Linked DNA regions of Homo sapiens. The protein of the gene in region 2 purifies or fractionates together with the protein of the main gene of each other region. This does not show direct contact. Each region holds a gene or a part of one and is shown on either strand. Other genes may lie near its edges. The genes, in order: AGL, GCK, PPP4R3B and GMIP.

Region 1 (3,565 bases), on a different chromosome or scaffold from region 2:
ATAATATCTGATCATCTTTTATTTAACTTAAATTTCAATCATTTTGCAGTGATATGGTTTACTGTGGAATTTATGACAATGCATTAGACAATGACAACTACAATCTTGCTAAAGGTTTCAATTATCACCAAGGACCTGTAAGAATTTCATTTATCTTCTGAGTTTCAGTTTAAATTATTTTTCAAGTAATTTTTAGGTATTTATGGTTTTTTTTGTCTTTTAAATAATCTTTTTTAGGAGTGGCTGTGGCCTATTGGGTATTTTCTTCGTGCAAAATTATATTTTTCCAGATTGATGGGCCCGGAGACTACTGCAAAGACTATAGTTTTGGTTAAAAATGTTCTTTCCCGACATTATGTTCATCTTGAGAGGTAAGTCATCAGGAGCATGTAATTTCCATAACTAGTGTTTAGTCAGTTTATTAGCTATTAGGTAAATTACAGTTTCTTAGAATTGATTTCTGTATGCCCTAGGTATCCCAATGAAAAGTGAAGCCTTTATTCTTTAACATGACAAATTCTGTTATATAATTTTCACTTTCTCTTATTTTGGGTTGTTATTTATTTTAAGTTGAGGTCTTGATATTGTGCGATTTATACATGTGGAATAGTCTTTGATTTTTAAAATTTCCCTGATGTTTTTGGATGTGGTTAGCACAGGATAAATATAAAAACTGAAGGTACTCAGCCTGGGCCTTTTGAGTTAATTGATTTAAAGATATATCAAGAAATAGTTTTCAGAAATGCTTTCATTATAGTTAAAATATCAGAACTGGTCTTTTGCCTGTTAGTTCAAAAAACATTTTTCACTTCCTTGTCCTAATTATTAGCAAATAGACAGTGTCAGAGTTACGTATCTTTATAAGAGTATAAATTCAGAGTGTATCTTAATTCCTCAAATTTTAGATTATACCTAAGTATATCTATATTCTATTCCTCAGATAATGAATAAACAGCACAAATTTTATCTCCTTTCTTACAAGCACATAAGGGACTTCTGCGTGTTTCATATTAATAGAGCCACTCCTGGTCTGTTTTGTTTGGTTGTCACCATGGTACAGATTTTACCATCCTTTTAAGCTATTTATGTCTTTGTATTTAAAGTGGCTTTCTTGTACATAGTAGCATGTAATCGGGCCTTGCTCTCGTGTAGCACAACAGTTTCTGCTTTTGGAATATTTAGACCATTTACACTTAAGGTCTGAAATTGTGAAATTTAAATGTTTGTTGTCTGTTTATTCTGTCTGTTCTTTGTTAGCTTTTTCCTCTTTTTGTGCTTCTTTTGCATTGAATATTTATTATTTCATTTTAATCTCCTTTGTTGGCTAATTAGATGTAATTCTTGTTTATTTAAAATGGCTGCTTTAGGTTTATAGTATATGTCTTTATAGTTTACCTTCCAGTGATATACCACTTCAAGTAAGGTATAAAGATCCTTAAAATAGTATAGTTTTATTTTTCCCCTCCCGGCCTGTGTGCTATCATCATCATCCATTTTGCTTTTACCTGTTATTACCCCCCACACTACATGGTTACTACATTTGTTTAGGCAGTCAGTTATGTTTTAATGATCTTTAAATAATATATTAAAAAGTCTAATTACTCTTATAGTTGCCATTTTCAGTGCTCTTCATATGTTTGTGATGTTCTGTATCTCCATCTTGTATCATTTTCCTTCTACCCGAAGGACTTTCTCCATCATGTCTTGTAGTGTTTGCCTCCTCATGATGAATTCTTTCAATTCTTATAAGTGTAAAACATCTGTGTTTTGCCTTTATTTTAAAGATATTTTCACTATGTATAGAATTCAAAGTTAAGCTTTTTTCTCTTTCATACTTTAAGGTGGTTACATTGTTTTGATAAGAAATCTGCATCATTTTTATGTCTAACCTACCATCACATCCATGCTGGTGTTTTTCATTTCAACGTTGTAGTTTTCATTTCTCAAAGTTTTATCTGGGCTGTTTTTATATCTTCCATGTCTCTGCTTAATGTTTTGAACATGTGGAATATGATTACAGTGACTCTTTTAATATCCTTGTCTGCTAATTCATTTCTGGGTTGCTTTTGCTTGTGATTGTTCTCTTTATTTTGGGTCATATCACCCTGCTTCTTTGCTTGGTAGTTTTTGTTTTTTGATTTTTGGAGCGACAGGGGTCTTGCTATCTTGCCCAGGCTGGTCTCGAACTCCTAGGCTCAAGCAGTCCCCCAACCTCGGCCTCCTGAAGTGCTGAGATTACAGGCATGAGCCACCACACCCAGCCATTTGCCTGGTTATTTTTTATTAGATACCAGATGTGAATTTTACCTTGTTGGGTGCTAGATTTTTGGTGTTTCTGTAAATGTTTTTGAGCTTTGTTTTGGAATGCAGTGAAATTACTTGGAAACAGTTTGATCCTTTCTGGTCTTGATTTTAAGCTTGTTAGACCTGACCAGAATAGCATTTGGTCTAGGAATAATTATTCTCCATTAGTGAATCAAGACCCATCTGTGTTCCCTACCCTGTATTTCGAAAATTATGACGTTTTCAAATCTGGCTGGTGGGAACAAGCAAGTGTTCCTGACGCTGTATGAGTGCCACATACTGCTTCTTCTCATCCTTTTGGATGGTTCTTTCCTTGTTCTTTGGTAGTTTCCTCTTGTGAATTTGCTGGTTGGTACACTACAGATACTTGAGTGGGACCCTCTGCATATCTTCAGAGTTCTCTCTTTGTACAGCTCCTTCCTCTCTAGTACTCTATCCTGCAAATTGTAGCTGCTTTGTAGTGTTCCTGGATTCTCAGTTCAACTCAAGGAAGTCTGCCAGGCTCCACCTGTGTTCCCCCTCTCTGTGCCAAATCCTGGAAACTCTCAAGGCAGTAAGGTATGGTAATCATAGGGTTTGCTTCATTTGTTTCTCATCCTTCAAGGATCGCTATTTGTTGCCTAATGTCTAATGTCTTAATGTCCAGTTCTTCAGTTGTATCAGACAGGAGGGAAATTCTGTCCATACTACTTCCTGTTTGTCACATATGGAAGTCCTTCCTTGCTTTCTGGCCCAGCAAGGTTTTCAACACTCATCTTTCACTTTCACTACCCCAGCCTGGAATTGGGCAATTCTCTAAGGATCCCTTGTTCTTTATAGTGAAAAATGTTATTTAGAAGCCAGATCTGAGCACATGGTGTATTTATTATTACTATGACCCCCAGTAGATAGGGCTAGGGAATATATAATAATACATAAACATAAGTAAATACATACACACTTATCTTCATCTCAATGTATCCTGTCTATGTGTGTTGAAAACCTGAGTTTACACCAGTTCCAAGCTATTTCTCAGTGTTTAATTCTATTTTTCTCCCTTTCTATATTTGTAATTCCCTTTTCCAACAATGAATAACCTACTTCCCACATTGGGCCATCACCACCACATAGAGTCTGCTCACCCAGCTTGGGCCTGCTACCCCACAGTAAGCCACCTCTATGTGTGGAGCCCTCCTGGCACCACTTGGATTCTAACTACCCACTCTGGACCACTCTCACCCTTGGTGGACTCCCTCTTCATACCTCTTGGACTCTAACATCC
Region 2 (3,565 bases):
TGAGCAGCAGCTGCAGACTGCTCACAGCTACACCCTTCTCCTGAGAGTTTCCTGGAAATGCCTGGAAGATCTTCCCTCCCCACTGGCCCTCAGCTGGTGGCTTTGATACAGGTACAATAGGCTGGCCCCTCTCCCAGGAGGGACAACCCTGTGATATTCTTCATGCATCAGAGCCCTTGTGGAACCAGACTGAGGCGGACTTAAGCTGGACCTGCCTTTTTGACTGGCTTCTTACCTCTCGTTTTCTGTCCCCCCAACTTCCTTATAGCTTCTGCTGACAGCGCTCCCGCAAACACCATTTTCCAAGAATTCCAATCTCAGGCTCTACTTCTTGGGAACCTGACCTAAAACAGATACAAATCATGTTTTCCCTTCCTACTGTGCAGGCTGGCAGCAGACAAACGATGCAGGCAGGCAGTGAGACTCAGATTGGGTCCTCCTGTCGGAACAGCTGGGATATGATGTCCATGCCCTCTCCCAGGACCCAGGTGGAACTTGAATACTGATTCATCATACTCACTTTTCATTTGGAGAGTGAATTTTGGGTAAATGACTTTGCAATCCATGAAAGTGAATACTCAGAACGTTTTCAGGTAGCAGAGGATCCCTGTACTTCCAAGACAGAGTGTTCATTGAGATCAGCCTCACAGCCGTGCCCTCTGGATCACAGCCCAGGAGCATGGAAAATCCCACTTCTTGGCCTCTCCAGCACTCCCCTTTCCTACTTGTTTATTGGCTGGGCTGATAGTTGCTGGTTGTCTACAACAAAGATCCCACTGGGGGGGCTAATACTCAGGTATTGCCAGGTAAGGAATGCTGTGAATATCACTCCAGGTCACAAGTGCTTGTGTTAGGGGACTCCTGGGACTACGAAGGGTTTGGTAAGAGTAATCTGTGTTGAATCTAGCCTCATTTCCTTTTTCTTTCTTTTATAGTTTTTAATTTTTTGGTAATAGAGAACTTCGAAGTAAGTAAAGGAGATAGTATAATAAACCCTGATGTACTCACTGCCTGATATCAATAATTGCAACCTTAATTCATTCCAGTATATTTTTACATGTGTTTCAGACTGAAATAAAGGGAGATGTTCAGCCTCAGGTGTAGAAGCAGTGAGACAATTTCCCACCACGGAGGAAGATGAAGAGCAGGAGAGGAGAGGCTGGCGGCTCCCAGGAGCAGATCACCTGCCCCCACTGCAAGGCCCCCGTGTGCTCAATAAACTGACCCTTGCGCAGAGACTAAGGCTCACTTATTGGAAACTATTATTGTTACAGTTACTAAGTAATTAACAAGTGATGCATAGGGCTGGTCAGTTATGTGACTATACGTGCGCGTGTGTGCACGCACGAGTGCATGTTTAGTTCATTACAGAAACACCATCATTTCTTTGTAATCAGCTGAAATCACCACTCATTAGTGGGCCTCTCGTGGGCTATAACTGATTTTACAGCCACCTGTCATTTCTTTTTTCTTTACAACTTTGTGCGTTTGTGTTTTTCATGGCATGCTCAGGGTACACTATGTTCTGCACGCAAGCAGGGGGCTGCACGGGCTCCAGCTCCCCTTCTCAGGCACGTCCCTCTCGATGTAATGTGTAGGATGGAACTTCTTCCCATGCGCTCTGTGAAGGGGCCCCGCAGCTCCCCAGCTGGACAGCTGCTCTGGAGACTTTGGCAGGGCTGGGCACCTGTGGAGCCTGAGGCCAGACCCAGGGAGCCACACTGTGGGAACCACAGGGCACCTGGAACATAGGTTTAATCCGGGCCTGTCTGTGAGTAATAGTGTCACAGTGGGAGGGCAGGAGGCAGGGTGAGTCAGTGGCTCCTGGAAAGGGATCTGTCATGACTCACATGGCGTTTCTTCCCTCATCCTTCTATCCTTCTACTTGCAGGACTTTCCTACAATTCTGTCTGTGCTGGTTCACGGTTATGTAGCATCAGGATGGGGCTCCCTCTTTGCTCAGGCCAGCAAAAGAGAGACAGAAAGAGAGAGAGAGATTGAGAGAGTGAGAAAAACAGATATACACACACACACACACAGAAAAAGAAACAAAGCGAAATACAGAAAGATAGACACAGAGAGAGAGTGAGAAAAACAGATACACACACACACACACAGAGAAAAAGAAACAAAGCGAAATACAGAAAGGTAGACACAGAGAGAGAGAGAGACAGAGTGACAGAGACAGAGAGAGAATACTACAGACAGACACACAGAGAGACAATGAGACAGAGAGAGAGGGGGAGAAAGAGACAGAAAGAGAGAGATACAGAGAAGTTCACACAGCTGTGAGGGGGCTAAAGGAGGAAGTGTCCACTCCTGAGAAGGGAAGGGAAGAGAAAGGCAGAAGGAGGGGCTGGGCCAGGTGTCCCAACACAGGGATAGGAGCACACAGGGGACATGCCTGGGCTGCCTCCAAAGGCCTGGCTCAGCTGAGGAATGACAGACTCCACAAGGGGCTTCCCACATCAGATGGGCCAGAATGTTCCCCTGGAGGTCACTAAACAGGGGCTCAAATCTCTCTTGCCTTGGGGTGGCTTCAAGGCAGAGGCCAGGGGCACTTTGTGCCTCTCTCCATCTGTCCCCTCTCCTCCTGGGGGTCTTGCTGTGGGCAGGTGCAGGTGTGGGCCTAGCTGCATCAGTCAGAGGGGCTCACGCTGGGGCTTCTGTGGCCCACTGATCCCCTGGATCTCACTAATGATGTCCCCTTTGGCTTGCTCCTGCCCTGGGGCTTCCTAGACATAGCTACTCCTTCTGAGGGGTCCTCATCCCCAGAGGCCTGGGCACAGGCAGCAGAGTGCTTCTCCTGGGGACAGCCCCCACTCTTGTCACCTCCCAGCCTGGCCCAGCCTCCTGTCCTGGCTACAGCAGGGGCACTGGGGTTGTGACACGGCATATGATGGATGGCCCAGCCCTGGTCCCACAGATGCAGCCCCAGCCCTCACCCCCACACCAGCTGCCTGCCCACAGCGTGCCCATTCCCTGAAGTCAGGGACCTGTCACTGCTCCGCTAGGCCTTGGCGCTGCCTGCTCCTCCCACACGGGCCCCTCCTCCCAGCACACCTGCTTGGGGGCCACCTGGAGCTTTGCACTCTGCACACCTGTCTCAGAGCAGGTGCCATGGCAGTATGGGGGGGCATCTCTCCTGCTGGGGCCCAGGACAATTCCTGCCAGGGATGTGGGTAAGCATGATGGAGTGCACCTTATTCCATCCTCATTCCACTTCTGAGCCTGCTCCTTCAATGGGGCAAAGGTGTCCAGGGCAGCTGGAGGGAGGAAGGTCAGTTCCTCCCGGCATGCCCTCCTGGTGTTACAGATTGAATTGTGTCCCCCCAGATTCATATGTCAAAGCCCTAACCCCAGTGTGATGGTATCTGGAGATGAGACCTTTGGGAGATAATTAGGTTTAGATGAGGTAAGGAGGGGGAGCCCCCATCATAGGATTAGCATTCTTATAAGAAGAGACACCAGAGAGCTTGTTTTCACTCTCTCTCCACGATGTGAGGACACAGCAAGAAGGTGGCGGTCTGCAAGTCAGGAAGAGAGCCCTCCCTGCAACCTGACC
Region 3 (3,565 bases), on a different chromosome or scaffold from region 2:
ACTGTACAACGCAGCACTCTACTTCTTAAAATCTGTGCATGTTGCTGAATATGTATTTAGTTTTTTGCTCCTAACTACTGCATGATATTTCACAAAATCATATCTCATGTTTTACTTTTTCAGTTCTGGGAAGTCATTACTGATCTTTGAAAGGACAATTTCAATTTCAGTAAGCGCCATATTACTTAATTATTTCTTAACCACCCCTGCCCGCCTTTTTTTTTTTTTTTTTTTTTTTTTTTTTTGAGACAGAGTTTCACTCTCGTTGCCCAGGCAAGAGTGCAGTGGTGTGATCTCGGCTCACTGCAACCTCCGCCTCCCAGGTTCAAGCAGTTCTGCTGCCTCAGCCTCTCGAGTAGCTGGGACTACAGGCATGCGCCACCACGCCCAGCTAATTTTGTGCTTTTAGTAGAGACAGGGTTTCTCCATGTTGGTCAGGCTGGTCTTGAACTCCTGACCTCAGGTGATCCGCCCAACTTGGCCTCCCAAAGTGCTGGCATTACAGGCGTGAGCCGCCACCCCTTATAATGAGAAAATAGAACAAAAAAGCTTCCCTGAAAAAGTTTGATGGTTCAGATAGTTCAGAGTGTCTTAAGGGGATTGGAGAATGATGAAATAGAAGGAACCATTGGAGAGAAATAAATTATAAAAACAAGAGCAAAGATAATTTTTATATGTTTAGCTTTGAGAAAGCATAAGTTTAGAAGTACATATGGAAATGTTAACCTTAGGAAATGGTATAGACATTTCCTTTGAAATGAATGAAGGAAATGTGTGAAGGTAAGTTGTGAGATGGAGAAATGTTAGAGGAAGTTGAGTACTGATGGGCTTTTTATTCAAAGGAAGCCTCTTATCTTCTGAGACTTAAAGGTGAAGGTAATGTTTGAGAAGTTGGAAAGTGAAAAAATATTTAAAGCAGCAGCTGTAAGGGATGACGATAGGATTATAGACTAGAGAATTTTTATTGAAAAACCCTATTGATAGTGTGGATTTATTGTGAATCCATACAGCAGAGTTCATTGGCTGTCTCTGAGACGTTATGATCAGATTGTGTTGTAGTAATACAATCCTAAAATTTCAATGGCTTGTCACAACAAAAGTTGATTTCTCCTTAATGCTGTTTGACCAATAGGGGAAGGGGCCCTACTCATGAGAGTCATTCAGGGACCAAGCTGGAAGAGAATTCATTTTATTTTATTTATTTATTTTATTTTAATTTTTTATTTTATTTTTTGAGACAGAGTCTTGCTTTGTCTTCCAGGCTGGAGTGCAGTGGTGCGATCTCAGCTCACTGCAACCTCCACCTTCCAGGTTCAAGCGATTCTCCTGCCTCAGCCACCTGAGTAGCTGAGATTACAGGCGTATGCCACCACACCTGGCTGATTTTTGTATTTTTAGTGGAGTTGGGGTTTCACCATGTTGCCCAGGCTGGTTTTGAACTCCTGACCTCAAGAGACCTGCCTGCCTCAGCCACCTAAAGTGCTGGGATTACAGGCGTGAGCCACCGTGCCTGGCCTAGACTTCACTTTTAATTAGTAGTGACTAGCCAGGCATTTCCAAATGATTTGATTTCCAAAATTTTGAATTATTTTGTATTTTAAGGTAATTAGCTGTATACTTGGATATTTTTAGGTTCAAGGTAAAGACCCATCAGTGGAAGTCACACAGGACCTCATTGATGAATCTGAAGAAGAACGATTTGAAGAAATGCCTGAAACTAGTCATCTGATTGACCTGCCCACATGTGAACTCAATAAACTTGAAGAGATTGCTGACTTAGTTACCTCAGTGCTCTCCTCACCTATCCGTAGGGAAAAGCTGGCTCTCGCCTTGGAAAATGAAGGCTATATTAAAAAACTATTGCAGCTGTTCCAAGCTTGCGAGAACCTAGAAAACACTGAAGGCTTACACCATTTGTATGAAATTATTAGAGGAATCTTATTCCTAAATAAGGCAACTCTTTTTGAGGTAATGTTTTCTGATGAGTGTATCATGGATGTCGTGGGATGCCTTGAATATGACCCTGCTTTGGCTCAGCCAAAAAGACATAGAGAATTCTTGACCAAAACTGCAAAGTTCAAGGAAGTTATACCAATAACAGACTCTGAACTAAGGCAAAAAATACATCAGACTTACAGGGTACAGTACATTCAGGACATCATTTTGCCCACACCATCTGTTTTTGAAGAGAATTTTCTTTCTACTCTTACGTCTTTTATTTTCTTCAACAAAGTTGAGATAGTCAGCATGTTGCAGGTAAGTAAAAAGATACTCTTCACGATTCCATTTTTCAGATATTTAGTTCCCTTAATAGTTCAAGCAGGTGTTTATACCCTCTATTTTTTGAAAGATTTATTTTGTTTAAATGTACTATTAAGTACATTTAAAGTAAACAAAAGAAATTGGGACTTTATGTCTTGTGGTTTTAGTGCAACCTTTTATTTATTTTTTTGAGTCGGAGTCTCGTTCTGTCGCCCAGGCTGGAATGCAGTGGCGCAATCTCAGCTCACTGCAACCTACGCTTCCCGGGTTCAAGCAATTCTTCTTCCTCAGCCTCCCGATTAGCTGAGACTACAGGTGTGCACTGCCATGCCCAGCTGATTTTTTTGTATTTTTAGTAGGGAAGGGGTTTCACTGTGTTGCCCAGACTGGTGTTGAACTCCTGAGCTCAGGCAGTCCGCCCGCCTCAGCCTCCCAAAGTGCTGGGATTATAGGCGTGAGCCACCGCGCCCAGCCCAGCCTTTTATATTTTTAAGTAGCCTGTGTTTTAGCTTTTTATACAATTTAGTATTTGTGTTTCTAAAATTGAGGTAGAATATACATAACATAAAATTCACCGTTTTGACTATTTATTTATTTATTTATTTTTTGAGATGGAGTTTTGCTCTTGTTGCCCAAGCTGGAGTGCAATGGCATGATCTCAGCTCGCCGCAACCTCTGCCTCCTGGGTTCAAGTGATTCTCCTGTCTCAGCCTCCTGAGTAGCTGGGATTACAGGCATGTGCCTCCACGCCGAGCTAGTTTTGTTTGTTTGTTTGTTTGTTTGTTTTTGAGACGGAGTCTTGCTCGGTCGCCCAGGCTGAAGTGCAGTGGCGCAATCTTGGCTCACTGCAAGCTCCGCCTCCCGGGTTCACGCCATTCTCCTGCCTCAGCCTCCCGGGTAGCTGGGACTACAGGCGCCCGCCATCACGCCCAGCTAATTTTTTGTGTTTTTAGTAGAGACAAGGTTTCACCATTTTAGCCAGGATGGTCTCGATCTCCTGACCTTGTGATCCACCCACCTCAGCCTCCCAAAGTGCTGGGATTACAGGCGTGAGCCACCCCGCCCAGCCCAATTTTTTGTATTTTTAGTAGAGGGGGGTTTCTCCATGTTGGTCAGGCTGGTCTCGAACTCCCAACCTGAGGTGATCCACCTGCCCCGGCCTCCCAAAGTGCTTGGATTACAGGCATGAGTCACTGTGCCCGGCCAGTTTCAACAATTTTTAAGTGTACAATTCATTGGCATTAAGTATATTTGCAGTGTTATGCAGCAGTTACCACTATCCATTTCCAGAACTTTTTCATCA
Region 4 (4,325 bases), on a different chromosome or scaffold from region 2:
TGGGGGCTCGGGGACAGAGGGTCACTGAGGAAGGTCCCAGCACCCTCCCCACAGGCGTGTGATGTTGGTGAAACCCTCTGGCACTTTCAGCACTTGAACATGGACTTGTCCCTGCCCAGAGAATTCAGTGCATATTTTCTAGTTTAACAAGCACCCCCATATTTCTGAGGTCTCTTTCACATTTTAACAACTCAGGTGCTGAGAGAAGCCTTAGGATGTGTGATATTTTTTTCTTTCCCATAATACATAACAGCATGCCTTTCTCTCGGGTGGTGTCTGAGACTTGAGGAATATGATCTGCATCATTACAAGTATTGACTCTGTCCGGTGGCTCAAGCCTGTAATCCCAGCACTTTGGGAGGCCAAGGCGGGCCCATCACAAGGTCAGGAGATCGAGACCATCCTGGCTAACACAGTGAAACCCCATCTCTACTAAAAATACAAAAAATTAGCCAGGCATGGTGGCGAGTGCCTGTAGTCCCAGTTACTCGGGAGGCTGAGGCAGGAGAATGGCGTGAACCCAGGAGGTGGAGCTTGCAGTGAGCCGAGATAACGCCACTGCACTCCAGCCTGGGCAACAGAGCGAGACTCCAACTCAAAAGAAAAACAAACAAGTACTGACTCTGTCATGCTCTTTGGGGGCCTGCGCTGCTCTACCATCTCATGTCACAGTCAGGGAGCTCTGGCTGAGCATCAGCCAGGATGTGACCTGGAAACCTGGCTTGGCTCTTAGGTTGATAGTGTTATTCCTTTCAATGGACTCACTCATCACAACTCAAGAACTGCAGAGTAGGCAGCACGGAGCCAGTCAGAGAATCCTTGCCTCCTTAACAGCCAAAGCCTTTGGACACAAAGTTATAAACATACTTTAAAGTCTATTTCCAGCCCCAAAATTCCACTGTGCTGGGGGTGGGAGCATTTTTATAACAGGCGGCTTGTGGCAACCCCAGAGCTGGTGCTTTTGGACAAACCTCCACTCCCTACCTAAAAGGGCTGCTCCCTGGTGTGCTGTAATTGGGGCCTTGAGCCTGATCCAGCTTTGAGGGTCACGGAAGGGGCGTCCCCCAGGCCAGGGGTTCTCCAGCCCGAGTATTAGAATTTTGGTTGGAATCGGACAGAATATCAGGCCTCCACCAGGGGGCGCCATGGCTCCAGCGAGGCCCAGGTGGTTTCAGGGCTCCGAGAGACAACCTGGGCAAGGGGATCACCAGGGTCGCGGGTTGTGGGAGCTCCTGGGAGAGGCCCCCCGGGACAGGTGGACTCTGCAACCATTCAGGGAGGAGGGGGCTGGGGCTCCGTGGGATTTGGGGTAGCACAAAGATCTGAGAGGGAACCTATGGCCCAGATGAAGTCTTAGGATGCCCAGGTCAGGGGCACTGCAGCCTCGAGTGGTCGCTCAGGGGGCCCTGGCCCGACCCAGTTTCAAGCGGCTCAGGTAGAGAAGGGCACTATCAAGGCTTCCGGGCTACGGGGGCGTGGTCTGATGCGGGGGCGTGGCCTCCGCTGGGCAGGGCGACGCGGAACCGAGGCGGCGGCGGCGGCTGCGGCGGCAGGAAATCGGGGCTCGGCCCCGCCGGCGCGCGACCCCATCCCCATCCCGGTCCCTGCAGAGCGATCCCCGGGCCCAGATATGGACGCAGCAGAGCCGGGTAGGGGGTCGGGGATCCGGGAGGGGCCTCCCCCGACCATCCCCTGCTTCCTACATTGAGGGCACACACTTGTCCCGCTCCGTCCTGAGAGCCAGGAGAGGAGTTCCTGAATGGGAAGGACCCAGGGATCCTCCATTGTGGGGAGCCCTGTGCCCGGATGGGTTCAGGACCCCAGCCCTTCACTCCCCCTCCCCCTTTTGATCCCTCACCCCAGACGCCTGGGGGAGGGGGCCCAGGAAGGGGAAGTGACTGCTTCTGCTTCTGATTTTTGTGATGGGGGCAGGGTGCCACGACTGCTGAGGGAGAGGGCAACGCGGTAGGATCCCCACAGGGCCCCTCTGTAGCCCTGGGGAGTCGGCAGTGCTGGTCTAGGCCCCTTAGGAGAGGGGGCAGGGGGGCAGCAGTAGAAATGTGGCGGGGTCCGACTTGGTGTTTCCGGCCGTCTTTGTGTCTGTGTTGTGTATGTGGAGTGTCATTCGGTCTTTATGTCCCTCACGGCTTCAGTCTCTCCATGTGTGTTTCTGCCCCAGGCTCTGCCTGGCTGTCCCTTGTGTATTTCCATCTGTCTAGCCCGTGGTTCCATTGTCAGACCGGCTTTCTTCTCGGGACAGCCTGGTTGCATCTGGGGCATCTGTTTTGTTGGTTTGCTTCTGGGTGCAGGCAGACCCAGGGAGTGGGTGTCTCTGTTCCCCGAGCAGCTGTCTCTGGTCTCTGGTGGTGTGTGAGTCCATCTGCCTGCCTCGAGTTGGCCCCAACCAAGCCCCCCCCAGCCCTCTCTTTCTCTCTCTCACTCTTCCCTTTCTCTTCCACCCCCTCCAAATGAGACTGGTTGAGGTGCCGTGGGTGGAGGGAGGCAGTGGTTAGCCCATGTATTACACTCCCCTCCCCTAGGACTCCCCCCAGGTCCTGAGGGCAGGAAGAGGTACAGTGACATCTTCCGGAGCCTGGACAACCTCGAAATCTCACTGGGGAACGTGTGAGTCTGAGCCTGGATCACCCCCAAATCCTGCCAAGATGCCCCAAGCCCCTAACCATTTAGGTGCCTTGCAGTCCCATTTGGAACCTGTAACATCTGGACCTACATACCTAATAACCAGAGAAGTCTAGGATGGGACCCTCCAAAATGCCTCGGTATCCTAAAAGTGTCCCCCTAAATAGACTGGAAATCCCCAAAGTGGTCCTAGAACCCCTACATATCCTTGTAACCCCTTAAAATATTTGCGATCCCTATAATCCCACTCTATGAACCTCAAAGTTATCTGGGGCCCTTCAGATGCTTTTTCAAGTCCTATTTAAAAAAAACTCACCTGATTCCCCCAAAACACCATTCTTCAGACCTCCCAGACACAAGAGATGCCACAGAGGTGATGTTTGCCACAAACAACCCTAAGGTCCCCAGCACCCCTTGGCAGGACAGACTGGGTGTAAGGTGGCATCCTGACACACCTTTATCCCCCAGGACCCTTGAGATGCTGGCTGGAGACCCTCTACTCTCAGAAGACCCAGAACCTGACAAGACCCCTACAGCCACTGTTGTGAGTGGGGAGTAGGGGAACAGGGAGGAAGACCTCAAGCAGAGGGGGCCTTAGGAAGGCCAGGCCCCTGCCCTGTTTGCTTCTGAATACTGTCTCCCTCCCGCACAGACCAACGAAGCCAGCTGTTGGAGCGGCCCCTCCCCAGAGGGTCCTGTACCCCTCACAGGTAGGGGGGTCTGGAGGCCAGGACAGTGGGGACAGACAGGAGTCTTTCCTTCAACAAATCACCACTGATCCCCTGTTCCATGCAAGGCATCGTTTAGGTTTTGGGAATATGGCAGTACACACAACAGATCTCAGTCCCAGCCCTCAGGGAGACCCCAGGCAGGGTGGAGGCTGAGGTAGGAGGATCACTTGAAGCCAGGAATTCGTGACCATGCTGGGCAACAGTAAGACACCATCCCTACCAAAAGAAAAAATATTTTTTTAATTAGCTGGGTGTGGTGGTGTGTGCCTGTAGTCCCAGCTACTTTGGAAGCTGAGGCTGGAGGACTGATTAAGCCCAGGACTTTGAGGCTGCAGTGAGATACGATTGTGCCACTGCACTCCAGCCTGGATGACAGAGCAAGACCATGTCCAAAAAAATCAAACACAAGGCCGGACGCAGTGGCTCACGCCTGTAATCCCAGCACTTTGGAGGCTGAGGCGGGTGGACCACGAGGTCAGGAGATCGAGACCATCCTGGCTAACATGGTGAAACCCCATCTCTACTAAAAATACAAAAAAATTTAGCCGGGCGCAGTGGCGAGTGCCTGTAGTCCCAGATACTCGGGAGGCTGAGGCAGGAGAATGGCGGGAACCCAGGAGGCGGAGCTTGCAGTGAGGCAAAATAGGGCCATTGCACTCCAGCCTGAGCGACAGAGCGAGACTCCGCCTCAAAAATAAAAATAAAAAAACCCATCAAACACAGGCCGGGCACGGTGGCTCATGCCTGTAATCCCAGCACTTTGGGAGGCCGAGGCGGGCAGATCACCTGAGATTGGGAGTTCGAGACCAGCCTGACCAACATAGAGAAACCTCGTCTCTACTAAAAATACAAAAAATTAGCCGGGCATGGTGGCGCATGCCTGTAATCCCAGCTACTCAGGAGGCTGAGGCAGGAGAATCGCTTGAACCCGGGAGGCAGAGGTTTTGGTGAGCC

The links.
Region 1: the proteins of GCK (region 2) and AGL fractionate together in Homo sapiens (co-fractionation; one large-scale study listed by BioGRID). This does not show direct contact.
Region 3: the proteins of GCK (region 2) and PPP4R3B fractionate together in Homo sapiens (co-fractionation; one large-scale study listed by BioGRID). This does not show direct contact.
Region 4: the proteins of GCK (region 2) and GMIP fractionate together in Homo sapiens (co-fractionation; one large-scale study listed by BioGRID). This does not show direct contact.

Annotation. Positions count from the first base shown.
Region 1 is NC_000001.11:99,916,361-99,919,925, forward strand, and holds part of AGL (glycogen debranching enzyme), read left to right. Parts: intron 1-49; coding exon 50-137; intron 138-237; coding exon 238-371; intron 372-3,565. UniProt on the Homo sapiens protein: Multifunctional enzyme acting as 1,4-alpha-D-glucan:1,4-alpha-D-glucan 4-alpha-D-glycosyltransferase and amylo-1,6-glucosidase in glycogen degradation.
Region 2 is NC_000007.14:44,182,916-44,186,480, forward strand, and holds part of GCK (hexokinase-4), read right to left. Parts: intron 1,239-3,565; exon of another isoform or gene 1,069-1,238; intron 546-1,068; exon of another isoform or gene 387-545; intron 1-386. UniProt on the Homo sapiens protein: Catalyzes the phosphorylation of hexose, such as D-glucose, D-fructose and D-mannose, to hexose 6-phosphate (D-glucose 6-phosphate, D-fructose 6-phosphate and D-mannose 6-phosphate, respectively).
Region 3 is NC_000002.12:55,597,107-55,600,671, reverse strand, and holds part of PPP4R3B (serine/threonine-protein phosphatase 4 regulatory subunit 3B), read left to right. Parts: intron 1-1,632; coding exon 1,633-2,256; intron 2,257-3,565. UniProt on the Homo sapiens protein: Regulatory subunit of serine/threonine-protein phosphatase 4 (PP4). May regulate the activity of PPP4C at centrosomal microtubule organizing centers.
Region 4 is NC_000019.10:19,640,835-19,645,159, reverse strand, and holds the start of GMIP (GEM-interacting protein), read left to right. Parts: upstream 1-1,502; 5' UTR 1,503-1,630; coding exon 1,631-1,649; intron 1,650-2,540; coding exon 2,541-2,625; intron 2,626-3,108; coding exon 3,109-3,184; intron 3,185-3,292; coding exon 3,293-3,350; intron 3,351-4,325. UniProt on the Homo sapiens protein: Stimulates, in vitro and in vivo, the GTPase activity of RhoA.